2 separate regions of the Homo sapiens genome follow, and region 1 is linked to region 2. The links come from fine-mapping of genetic effects on plasma protein levels. A gene starts in region 2. The other region holds a variant in brackets. All regions are shown on one strand. Distances are from middle to middle.

Region 1 (5,379 bases), 940 kb after region 2:
AGCATGTACACTGTAGTCGCTGTGCAAACATAGCTTTGAGATGGCCACCCTGCCACCTCCCACATGACTCCCTGAAGTCCTTTTCTTCTTTGTCCTCTCCTGTCACATAAAATTCAGAATTTTCAGGAGAATTTCAGAATTTTCAGTAGAGTTTCAGAATTTTCAAGATAGAAGGGAACTGAGGGTCACCCAGTTCTGTTTGGTAACAAATGTGTTCCACTTCTTCCCCTAGCCAGAGTCCCAGGACAGAGGGTTAGCTCATTATGTCTTTGGCTCCTCTTTTATCCCTAACCTCTCGGGTATAAAATGTAAGTGATTAATGTTCCACAAGACTTGGACTGAAAAACTTTAATCCAGTACATTCTGTTTGATCAAAACAGGGTCCAGGAAAGTTAAATGACTTGTCCATAGCTGCCACAGTCTGTGGGTAAACAGGGACCAAAACCCAAGGCCACTTGATCCCCCATGCGTGGCCTTCCTATAAAGCCACTTGCCCATGGTGTGGACATGATTGCCCTGTGGGTACGGGGCATGCTGGGGCCAATGACACGCTATCTTTGGGGAAGGGTGTAGCTTTGTGGTTAAGACCATCAACGTTCTGGCAGACTAAGTAAGTTCTGGCATGGCTATTTAGTAGCTGTGTGATCTTGAGCAAGTTACTTATCTTCTCTGAGCCTCCATGCCCTCATTTATACAACAGGGCAGTACCCTCTTCAGCAGGTTGTGAGGATTCAGTAAGGTAATATATGTCACATGCTTGTCACAGGTCTGGCATAAGGCAAATGGCACCTAACATTATTTTCTAGCTTTTCAGCACTCAGGTGTGAACTTCCCAAGTCATAATGGTTCTTTCTGTTCCAGCTGAAGTTAACTCAAACCTGTCTTTATTACTCCATTTGTTGAAAGAGAATCTGATATGGAACTTTTTGCTTGGATGATGTGCCACACATGTAGTCTACTGTTAGAAATTGTTTAAAAATCTGAGTTTCAGAGCTGTCTTTCCAACTGGTTGGTTGGTTCCTGGGTTTTGAAGAGATTCGTTCCTCCTCCAGACTTATCTCCTCGCTCTGTTTGGGACCATAATAAACCTAGCTACTGTTTATGAAATTATTACTATGTGGTAGCCCCTTAACCAGGTTTCTCTCTAATCTTCACCTCCACCCTTTGAAGTAGGTGCTATTTGGTCCTGATTGCAGATGAGGAAACTGAAGTTCTGAGAGACTGAGTAACTTGCTTGATGGTTGATATTTTGGTGGTTCTCCCTCGTGGAAGGTGGAAGAGCACACTGTGCTCTGTAGTTTTCTGGATGTGAGATTATGTCTAGGGTGACTCTAGCACTTGGGGTTGACACCTGACAAGGACTTGAGTGAGCATCCAACCCCCTGATTGATCAGCAGGGGAAGCTGGTGAGCAAAAACGTCACAGGACTGGACCCAAGTCAGCACTGCTTCTCATTCAGTGTTCTTTCAGTCATATCATATAGGCTCAAATCCTTGACCCTTGCATCATAGGCTCTGGCCTCAGGACTCCCTGGTTTGTGACTGGCCTGTGAATTAACGTTCCGCTTCAGAATTGGAACTTGAGGTTCTAGAAGCAAGGTGCTTGCATTTGAACTCCAGCTCTGCTGCTTACTAGCTGTGTGACTTTGGGCAAGTTGCTTGAACTCTCTGTGCCTCAGTTTCTCCTACTATAGAAGTACTCATTTCATAGGATTGTTGTAAGGATTACTTGAGATACTTCATTAAAGTCAAAGCACAGTGCCTGGCAGAGAGCAAACACCTCTTCGGCTCTCAGCATCATTTACTGAGCTCTCATCACTTGCCAGGCATCTTTTGGCAATGGGGATGTAGCCTTGTACAAGCGATTCATGATTCTTTTGGAGCGTACAATCTAGTAGGGGAAACAGATGCTAGAGAATAATGAAGATTATGATTTATTAAGTAATTCTAGTGCTATTTGTTATTTATGGGGCACTATTTAGAAGTTGCTGCAAGGTATCTTTGTTTTTAGTTCTAATTCTTATAAATGGACAACATTAATGTAAGTAAGTATTTTGGGTAAGAAGTTTGGCCAGGGTTGCACAGAACCCTCAGCTTTGAGAAGCCTGTGGTTTAGCATCTCATGCCAGCAACCATCTAGATGTGTATTTTTGTTTTGTTTTTTAGAGACAGAGTCTTGCTCTGTCACTCAGGCTGGAGTGTAGTGGTACAATCATAGCTCACTGTAACCTCCAACTCCTGGGCTCAAGCCATCCTCTTGCCTCAGCTTCTAAAGTAGTTAGGACTATAGGAATGCACCATCATGCCCTCCTAAATTTTTACATTTTGTGTACAGACAGGATCTCACTATGTTGGTCAGCCTGGTCTTGAGTTTCTGGCCTCAAGTGATCCTCTTGCCTCAGCTTCCCAAAGTACTGGGATTATAGACATCAGCCACCAAGCCCAGTCAGTCATCTGTGTTATATCCAGAACAGAATTAGGTATGGCCCTACCACTTAGATGCAAGCAGCCCACCCTTGAAGGGCAGAAGGGAAGCTGTGACTGGGCAGAATCCACAAGGCAGCAAGACTTGGTCCACTGAAGGAACAGATAGCTCTCATAGTCATAACAGGCCTGTAGGAAGAAGACAGTGTAGGAACCAAATGCTGTTGTAAAGAT[A/G]ACACAGGCACTATGTAACCGAGTACCTATTTTTAAGTGACAGTGGTATATTTTAGGCCAGTTCTATCCCATTTGTAGTCTGTCTCCATTTTCCCTCAGTAATTCTTTTCTCATAGTTGATCTTTCCTCTGTTTCAACCTCTTGTTTGCTTTGCCATTTGATATTAAAAGAATCTATATGCATATGCATTTCTTGACAAATGAGTACATTGAGCTTAATTTTCTGATGAGCCTTCATAAAATATTACCATGCTGAACCAACCCAAAATGTGGGCTGCCTATACCAAACATGCTAATTTTAGACAGGGTGCTTTCATCAGTACATAAGATATGAATTTTTATTTGAAAGCTTTCCTGAAATTAAATAGCATAAAATCAAGATAATACTCCATATACACTTCAGTCTTTGCTGTTTAATAGAATCACAGAAGCATACACATTTATGTTTAAATCACCTTGTTATATGGTTCAAGAATCTATGTCTCAGAGAGATCACTTGACTTGCCCAAGACCACAGACTTAATGGTAGGGCCAGATTGTATACCATGTCTTCTTTTTTTTTTTTTTTTAATTTTTTTAGAGGTGGGGTCTCGCTCTGTTGCCCAAGCTGGAATGCAGTGGCACGATCATAGCTCACTGCAGCCTCAAACTCTTAGGCTCAAGCAATCACCCTGCCTCAGCCTCCTGAGTAGCTGTCACCATAGGCATATGCCACTGTGCCTGGCTAATTGTTATAATAATAATTGTTATTATTATTGTAGAGATGAGGTCTTACTTTGTGGCCCAGGCTAGTCTCAGACTCCTGGGCTCTAGTGATCCTCCCACCTTGGCCTCCCAAAGTGTTGGGATTATAGGTGTAAGCCACTGCACCTGGCCCATGTCTTCTAATTTAGGTCAGTTCACTCTTCACTCTGCTGCTTCTTTTATATATGTGCAACAGTCATATCCTTTTTTGAAATTATAAGATTAAATCAAAGAATTAATGTCTTTGGAAGCAAGGAGTGTTGGAAAAGTTCTCCAAATTCCACCTTTTTTCCTTAATTCATTTAAAAAAAAAGGGAGAAGGATGATTTATTTACCGGAAGGGTTAATAATAGCATGACGTGCTAACTGTATGCTTAGAAATCTGACATACATATTATCTTATTGGATTATTCATGTGTTTTTAACTCATTAAAACCTTGAAACTCTCATATCCCCATTTTATAGATGCTTAAACTGATGTTTGTCATCATTAAGTAAACTGTCCAAAGTCATATAGTTGGCAAGTGAAAACTTGGTATTTGAACCCAGGCTTCTCATTCTAAAGCAGAGGTGTCCAATCTTTTGGCTTCCGTGGGCCACAGTGGAAGAAGAATTGTCTTGGGCCACACATAAAATACACTAACACTAACAATAGCTGATGAGCTTAAAAAAAATCGCAAAAAAAAGTCTCATAACGTTTTACGAAAGTTTACAAATTTATGTTGGGCCACATTCAAAGCCATCCTGGGATGCATGCAGCCTGTGGGCCATGGGTTGGAAAAGCTTGTTCTAGAGCTTGTATTCTATGTTCTTCCAGAAAGAAGGACAGAGTGTTGAGTATTCCACAAAGAAAATTTTGCTGTAAAGGCAGAGTGGGAGGGAAATATCTTATTCTTTTTCAGTTTACTAGCTCTTCACTTTATAATTTAACCTTCCATATTAAAAGCTTCTCTAGGAAGTGAGAATTAATTTGGGGGAAGGAAGCCTCAATTATTCCTGCTTCCAGCTGGTACAGATGCTTGGCCACTTCAGGACAGGTAGGAGGGAGAATGTTGGCATCTGTCTACTGAGCTCAGAAACTGGAGAAGCATCTAAATTCAGGAATGATGCCAGGTGGGGTGGGGGTGTGGGAGGGAGGAAAAGGATGTGGTGTTTGGGGCCCATAACTCAGGAAACGTGATGGCACCTAATTTCAGAGTGGCATGAGGCAAGCATTTAGGAAAAGAATAGTGAACTATTGTTACAGGTTTTTTTTAAATGGGTGGGTTGTTTTTATAAAGTTTTATGAACAGGAAACTGAAGCAAAATGCTGATCCTTTTAGTTTTTGAGCTCTGCCAGCATCATTTTTATATTTATTTTTGAATTTTGATGACAGGCACTTCCTTTAACACTTCTGGGAGTAAAGTGTAACAAGATACCCCAAACTGCATTTCATAACAGCAGAATCCAAATGAAGAGTTGTAGTTTCAGATCTTTTCGATAACACGGTGAGACAGAACTGGATCCCTCCCCAGCCAGGGGAGAAAGAGAACTCTTTCAGTAACTGAGGCAGTCTGCAGAATTTTTTCCCTTTCAAAACATTCTAGAAAATTTGCCTAACATGTGGAAAACCTCTAACATGCATTAAAATGGGATAGACTGTGGCAAAGAAAATACAGATCAAATTCTCCTCCTCCCATGAATCATAAAAACCCAGCCTTCCCAGCTATTGTTTCTCCTGGAAGATGACTTCATCTTAAAGAAAGTGGTTCTATCTGTTGTGTGTTTTGGATGCACTAAACCAATGTTTCAGGCATCTGGCTGCCAACTTTGGAGATGTTAAAAGCCTGTTTTGTTCCTGCAGGGCACTCTTTCATTGCCTACCTTATAAAAGTTATGTCTTATTGCATTTTCCTGGCACCAGAGCAATCCTTGTACCTACCCATTGCATTTGGTTTTTCTGAGCCTGCAGGCAGCACTGGGTTATTAAAGTTCAAGG
Region 2 (5,379 bases):
CCTCCTTTCTTTAAAAAATAATTTACAAAATAATTCCTTAAATCAGTAGCTGCCGAAGTATCATTTTTTTCTCTTCCTTTTGAGGCTCAGGTTTCTTTCATTTCAAAACATATTCTTGAAGACTTAAGTTCTTCCTTTAAGAAAGATTTAATTATTTAACTCAGAAAGAGGGGCAAAAAGTCAGGAGGTGAAACCTGAGACAGTCCTATTAGTCTTACATAACTTAAAGTTGGAACTGATTCAGTAGCTCAGCTAAAAACCTGAGGTTTAGGCACAAAGATGAGCTCTTTAGTATACTCTCCACAAACATAAATAAACAGTTTTTAAAAATGGAAAGGATCTTAATTTCTTTCTTCACTTCTTAAAATAAAAGCACATACATGTATAGTAACTTACGATACTAACATAAAAATACTAAATTGGTTACGCTTAAAATGAAAAGCACTGAATTCATCGTATCACATTTAAGTAATGCTATAATTGACAGAATAGGGTATAATTTCAGAAAGTAAGTTTATTTCCTAACACTAACTTTTGAATAGCACCTCTGTAAGTATGCATTAAGTACTTAATAAGTGCTGCAGGGAACATCAAAAAGTGATTTTCAAACGCAATATGTGTATGTTCTCCAACTTGTAAAAAAAACTCTGAAAATATATAAAGTTACAGTTGTTCATGCTTAATTAAATTAGCTTTGATTATTGCAAATTACTCCTCCAAGGGCAAGTATGTATCAAACCTTTCAAAAATCTTAGGTTTATATCAGCAATTATCCTTACTAGAAAGGTCCTGATCTGAACTCACCTAAAGCTATGTGTTAACTACATTTCACCACTAAGACACTTGAGCCCCGGGATAATAATGGCCACGGATTCCCCGAATTGCTTCGAGAACTGCTGCTTGCTTAATAAAGCGCTGAACTGTGAATTCACCTTTCTAAACAGACTAAAAGCAAGACGCCAAGTTTCACTATCTAGTTTGGGATTTCACTGGGAATGACCACGTTATCAAGATGCCATAGCCCTCCTGAGGCTTTTAATTACAATACCTTCTCTGTTTTCCATTCAACCACCTCAATCAAATTTCCACTAGAACCAGGCACACAAACAGTTGATTCGTGGCTTTGCGCAAAGCCTCCTCTGGATGCAAACCCTGGGATCCTGCATACATTAGTCCTCTCAGGGAGGGCAAAAGGGGAAAAAAAGTTTGTTAAACAATGCCGCTGGACAATGTGGTGACATTACCTTGCCCGTCTTGTGATCAAACCAGACGAGAGCGTGGTTCCTTGATAGCACTTTGCAATCAAAAGTGGCATTATTCTGCGCTGGTCGACAGCGGGCCACTGAGCGGCCGATTTTGATGGGCTCGTCCAGGTAGACATGACGCTCCTGAAACGGGTGCGAGTTCGGGCGGCAAGTGAAGATGGCCAAGGCTGACGGCATCGAGGATAGACTGGGGGTGTCTCTCCTACCAGGGACAAAGAGGAGTTCCTCCGGATCCGGACTGCCCTTCACAAGCCTATGCCCCTATCCCACCCAAAATTTTAAATTAACACAAACTGCACATTGTCTAAGCATAACCAGTGAACATCAACTCTTCACTTGGGTGGGAAGACAAGCCAGCGCAAGCCCCATCACCTCCTTTAAAACGCTGCAACGCCGTGATCACAAAAAGTCCCCAACTGGCAGCTTTCAGTCCATCTTCTTCTCTGGGAAGAAAAGGCTCAAACATCGGGCAGCTTCGGCCAAGAAAACTCCTGGAACACAGTTTGGGGACTGGAGGTATCCAAGCAGATGAGTCACACGCCAATTCTTGTGTTTGGTTTGAGATCGCGGCCGCTTTTCCCCCTTGGTGGCGGAAACGTTGCAGCACTGCAGCATGAATGAAGGGTCGGTTCGGCGCGGCCAGGAAAGTCCTTTTGGGCCGAAGGAAGGTGTGGCTGGGCACCTCTGGGCAGCCACCGCCAGTCCTCGCCCGGAGTGAAGGGGCGAGAGGTGACGGAGACGGAGGGGCTCTAGACGGCCGGCGGGACAGTCTGCATCGCCCCTGCTGAGCGGAGGCCGCCCCGGGAAGGGGGACGCGGTCCCCGGCCTGGCACGATCCGAGACGGCGGTGGCTGAGGTTCTCCGCGCGAGGCGTGGAGGCCGGCGGGGCGCGGGCAGTGGCCAAGTCGGGACTCCTGGGCACCTGGCGAGCGTCCCCGCGACCAGGGCGGGGACCCGGCTCCGCAGGCCGGTGCGGACCGAGCGAGGCGCGACACCGGGAGGCTCGAGTTCCCAGGCGGCAGGAAGTTGGTCCCCGGACGCCTAGGCTTCTGGGCCGCCGCTCAGCACATGGGCCGCCTCCCCTCAGGGTCGCCCCCGCGAGGGTCGCATCTCAGGGACGGCAGCCGCAGCTCCCGGCGGACGAGAAGGTGGGGGAGGGAGACTGGCCCGGAGGTTGGGGAGAGGCCTTGAGGCCCCGGGCTGGATCCGCCGCAGCCTCCACCGATCGCGGCCGATGGGGCAAGCTCAAGCTGCGCCCGACGAGGCAGGAAACTTTCCGACCTGGTGGGGAAAACATCAAAACAAACGGCCGTCAGGCGCCTCAGCCCGCCCGCCTCAGCCGTCGCCCCCTCCAGCCAGACCCCCGCCAGCCCACACCGCTAGGCACGACCTCCGCCGACCTCTCCGCAAGCAGGCTACGAGGATTTGGAGCCAGGACGCCACGACGGGTCCTACCTCCCTAGCCGCCACCACCGCCTCAGCTTACCTTGCCAGCGCCGGCCGCCATAGTGACTCTGACTGAAACCTACCCGGTGCACCGCCACGGGAACGCGCACCCTTCAAGGGCCCTCCTACCCCCTCTCCCGCGCCGTAGTCCAGGAATGTCACGTGAACGACGCCACGGAAGCCGTGTTGGTAGAGGGCAGAAAAAAGGGCAAGGTAATTTTTAACGGGCCTCCAGGCGCCATCTTAGTTAAGGGCTGGAAGCTTCAAACCTCGGGACAACCTTAACGACCATTTTGGTTAAGGGCAAGAACAATTTGCGCCGTAGAAGGTTTTTCAAACAAACAGTGCCACCTTCTTATTTTATCTACTTAGCAAGGGGGTGCCAACTTTTACTAAATTTTATTCTGTTTAATTCTCGATGAAAATACTAGCGAGCAAAAGAACAGACCCAGCCAAAGGAGATGGTCATTAGCAGCCATCTTAGCTGTGGGCAACACAGTCACCCGCAGCTACCTTAAGTGTGAGCCGCCAAACTCCCTGAAGTCTTAGGATTTGTGCACCTAACAGAAGGACCATTCTCCCCTCTGCTAAATTCGTTATGTTTTCTTCCCGGAAAAAAAAAATCTTAGTTCCCGCATTCCATTTCGAATGACAGTCTTTCTCACTGAACCTATTATGTGCCCCCAGGGCTCCTGCGCGGATTCTTCCACAGAAGGAGCGTCCAGAAAGTTTAAAATCATGTTTCTTCCAAAGAGAGATTGAATAATTTCCAAAGTGAAAAAAGAGGGTATTTCCCCCACTTACAATATCAAGATGAGGAGTCATTGGTCTAAAGAAGGAAGACTTTGCAAGGGCTAAATGAAAACTTTAAGAAAAAATAGTGAGAAGGAGACTTACTCATTTAGAATCAAAGGTGACTTCATTCTTCAGATTCCTGCAATAACAGGCTCCACCACTGTGTGACCTTAAGCAAGTTTCTAAACTTTTTCAAGCCTCTTTTTTCTCATGGATGACATGTTAATAATAGTTAATTCACTTGATGTGGTGAGACTTCAAAATGTTAATCCATGTTGTTCAATAAAGAGTAGCAATTAGGCCGGGCGCGGTGGCTCACGCCTGTAATCCCAGCACTTTGGGGGGGCCGAGGCAGGCGGATCACCTGAGGTCGGGAGTTTGAGACCAGCCTGACCAACATGGAGAAACCCCGTCTCTACTAAAAATACATAATTAGCCGGGCGTGGTGGCGCATGCCTGTAATCCCAGCTACTTGGGAGGCTGAGGCAGGAGAATCACTTGAACCCGGGAGGCGGAGGTTGCGGTGAGCCAAGATCGCGCCATTGCAGTCCAGCCTGGGCAACAAGAGTGAAACTGTCTCTCCAAAAAAAAAAAAAAAAAGAAAGAAAGAAAGAAAAAGTAGCAGTTATTCATCTCAATACTTATATAGACAGTTTGGCCGTGTCCTAGGTTTTTGCTGGGCCCTGGGGACACATAACTGAACCAAACTTCAATTCCTGCCTTCTGAGATCATAACGGTATTGTGGGTTAGAAATGAGGGTAGGGAGTGACAAACATGAAATTGATGTAATCAGGGCTAAGATAGAGGCAGGCACTAGCTGCCCAAGGGGTCAGGGATGGTCTGGGAGAAGTAACTGAACTGAATGAAGGAAGATAGGAAAACCACAATAAATATGGTATTCGCTGAATGGTTTCATGAATTTCCACAAACACGGATAGCAAGGAAAAGAAGGAGCCTACTTGAAACAGTGCACCAATGTGCCGGCACATAATAGTGGATAAATAAGTATTTGATGCATGAATGAAAATTACATACTGTTACTCATTATTAGAGGATAAAGTAGGCGGGACACAAAGTGAGTCTGGAAAGAATAGGCATTATATAATAAAGACGTTATATTCGTTTTTCAAGCTCTTCATCAATTCAACAAATATGTGTCAAGCTACCACTGTGTTCCAGGTATGCTATTCAAAATGAGGATATGTTGGAAAGCTTTCTTATGAGAGGATGAAAAGTTTTCACTTCTGATAACTTTTAGGCTGTTAAGGAATAAAATAAGATAGGACCCTCCACAGATCCCTAATGAGTTTTTTTTGCACGAATAGCAAGTCATTTATGCATTCTTTCATACATTCATTCTATAAACATTTAATTGATACTGTGAAATAGATATTTTGAAAGGTCCTGGAAATACAATAATGAAGAAACAAAAAGACTCCCTCAAGTTGCTCGATTTAGGTGATGACACAGAAAGATCCTTGCTGTAATGGAGTATGTCAAGAGTAGTGGAAACATGGCAGAGTAGTTTAAACTGAAACTTGAAAGGATTAGAACAGCTAGTCTGATGCTATTGGGATAAAGAAATTTTAAGCTAAGAAGCAATCCCAACAAAAGTCCAGAGACTTGAGAGAACAGGACTTTAAGGGAATTGCAAGTAGGTTCGTATCACCAGAGCATAAGAGATAAGGGAAAACGAGGAGAAAGAGTGACAGAAGTGAGGTTTCAGTTGCTGAAGGACTTCTAGGCAATGCACCAGACTTCAGAACATTTCCATCTTCCTCCTAGAAGATCAAAGAGAAGTAATGAAAGTCAAGGTGCTGGAATCAGACATGGCATACTTTTACCAGCACCATAAATGGTAAATTATTTAGC

Which allele goes with the higher level. Alleles are on the strand shown, and positions count from the first base shown. The strength of an association depends on the size of the effect and on how common the allele is.
For the plasma level of the protein whose gene starts at base 2,785 in region 2, G is the high allele of the variant in region 1 and A is the other (weak association).

Evidence for each region. PIP is the chance, under the fine-mapping model, that this variant and not a neighbour inherited with it causes the effect. Protein levels are from antibody-based Olink assays in UK Biobank. Linkage for the fine-mapping came from a reference panel and not from the study's own genotypes, which makes the PIPs less certain.
Region 1: its variant is fine-mapped to the plasma level of the SLMAP protein (UK Biobank, PIP above 0.99).

What each region holds. Positions count from the first base shown.
Region 1 is chr3:56,813,000-56,818,378 of GRCh38, reverse strand. It overlaps a transcript of ARHGEF3 not described here. Among named protein-coding and RNA genes, the nearest start is that of ARHGEF3, 14 kb to the right of the region's middle. The variant A/G (reference allele first, on the strand shown) is at 2,658.
Region 2 is chr3:57,753,715-57,759,093 of GRCh38, reverse strand. It overlaps SLMAP (sarcolemma associated protein), which reads right to left and starts at 2,785. Exons shown (of 25, transcript NM_001377540.1): 1 at 2,752-2,785; 2 at 1,245-2,546. The coding sequence starts at 1,442. RefSeq lists a silencer at 2,048-2,327 and enhancers at 1,875-2,776, 2,698-2,877, 2,908-3,187, 2,777-3,679.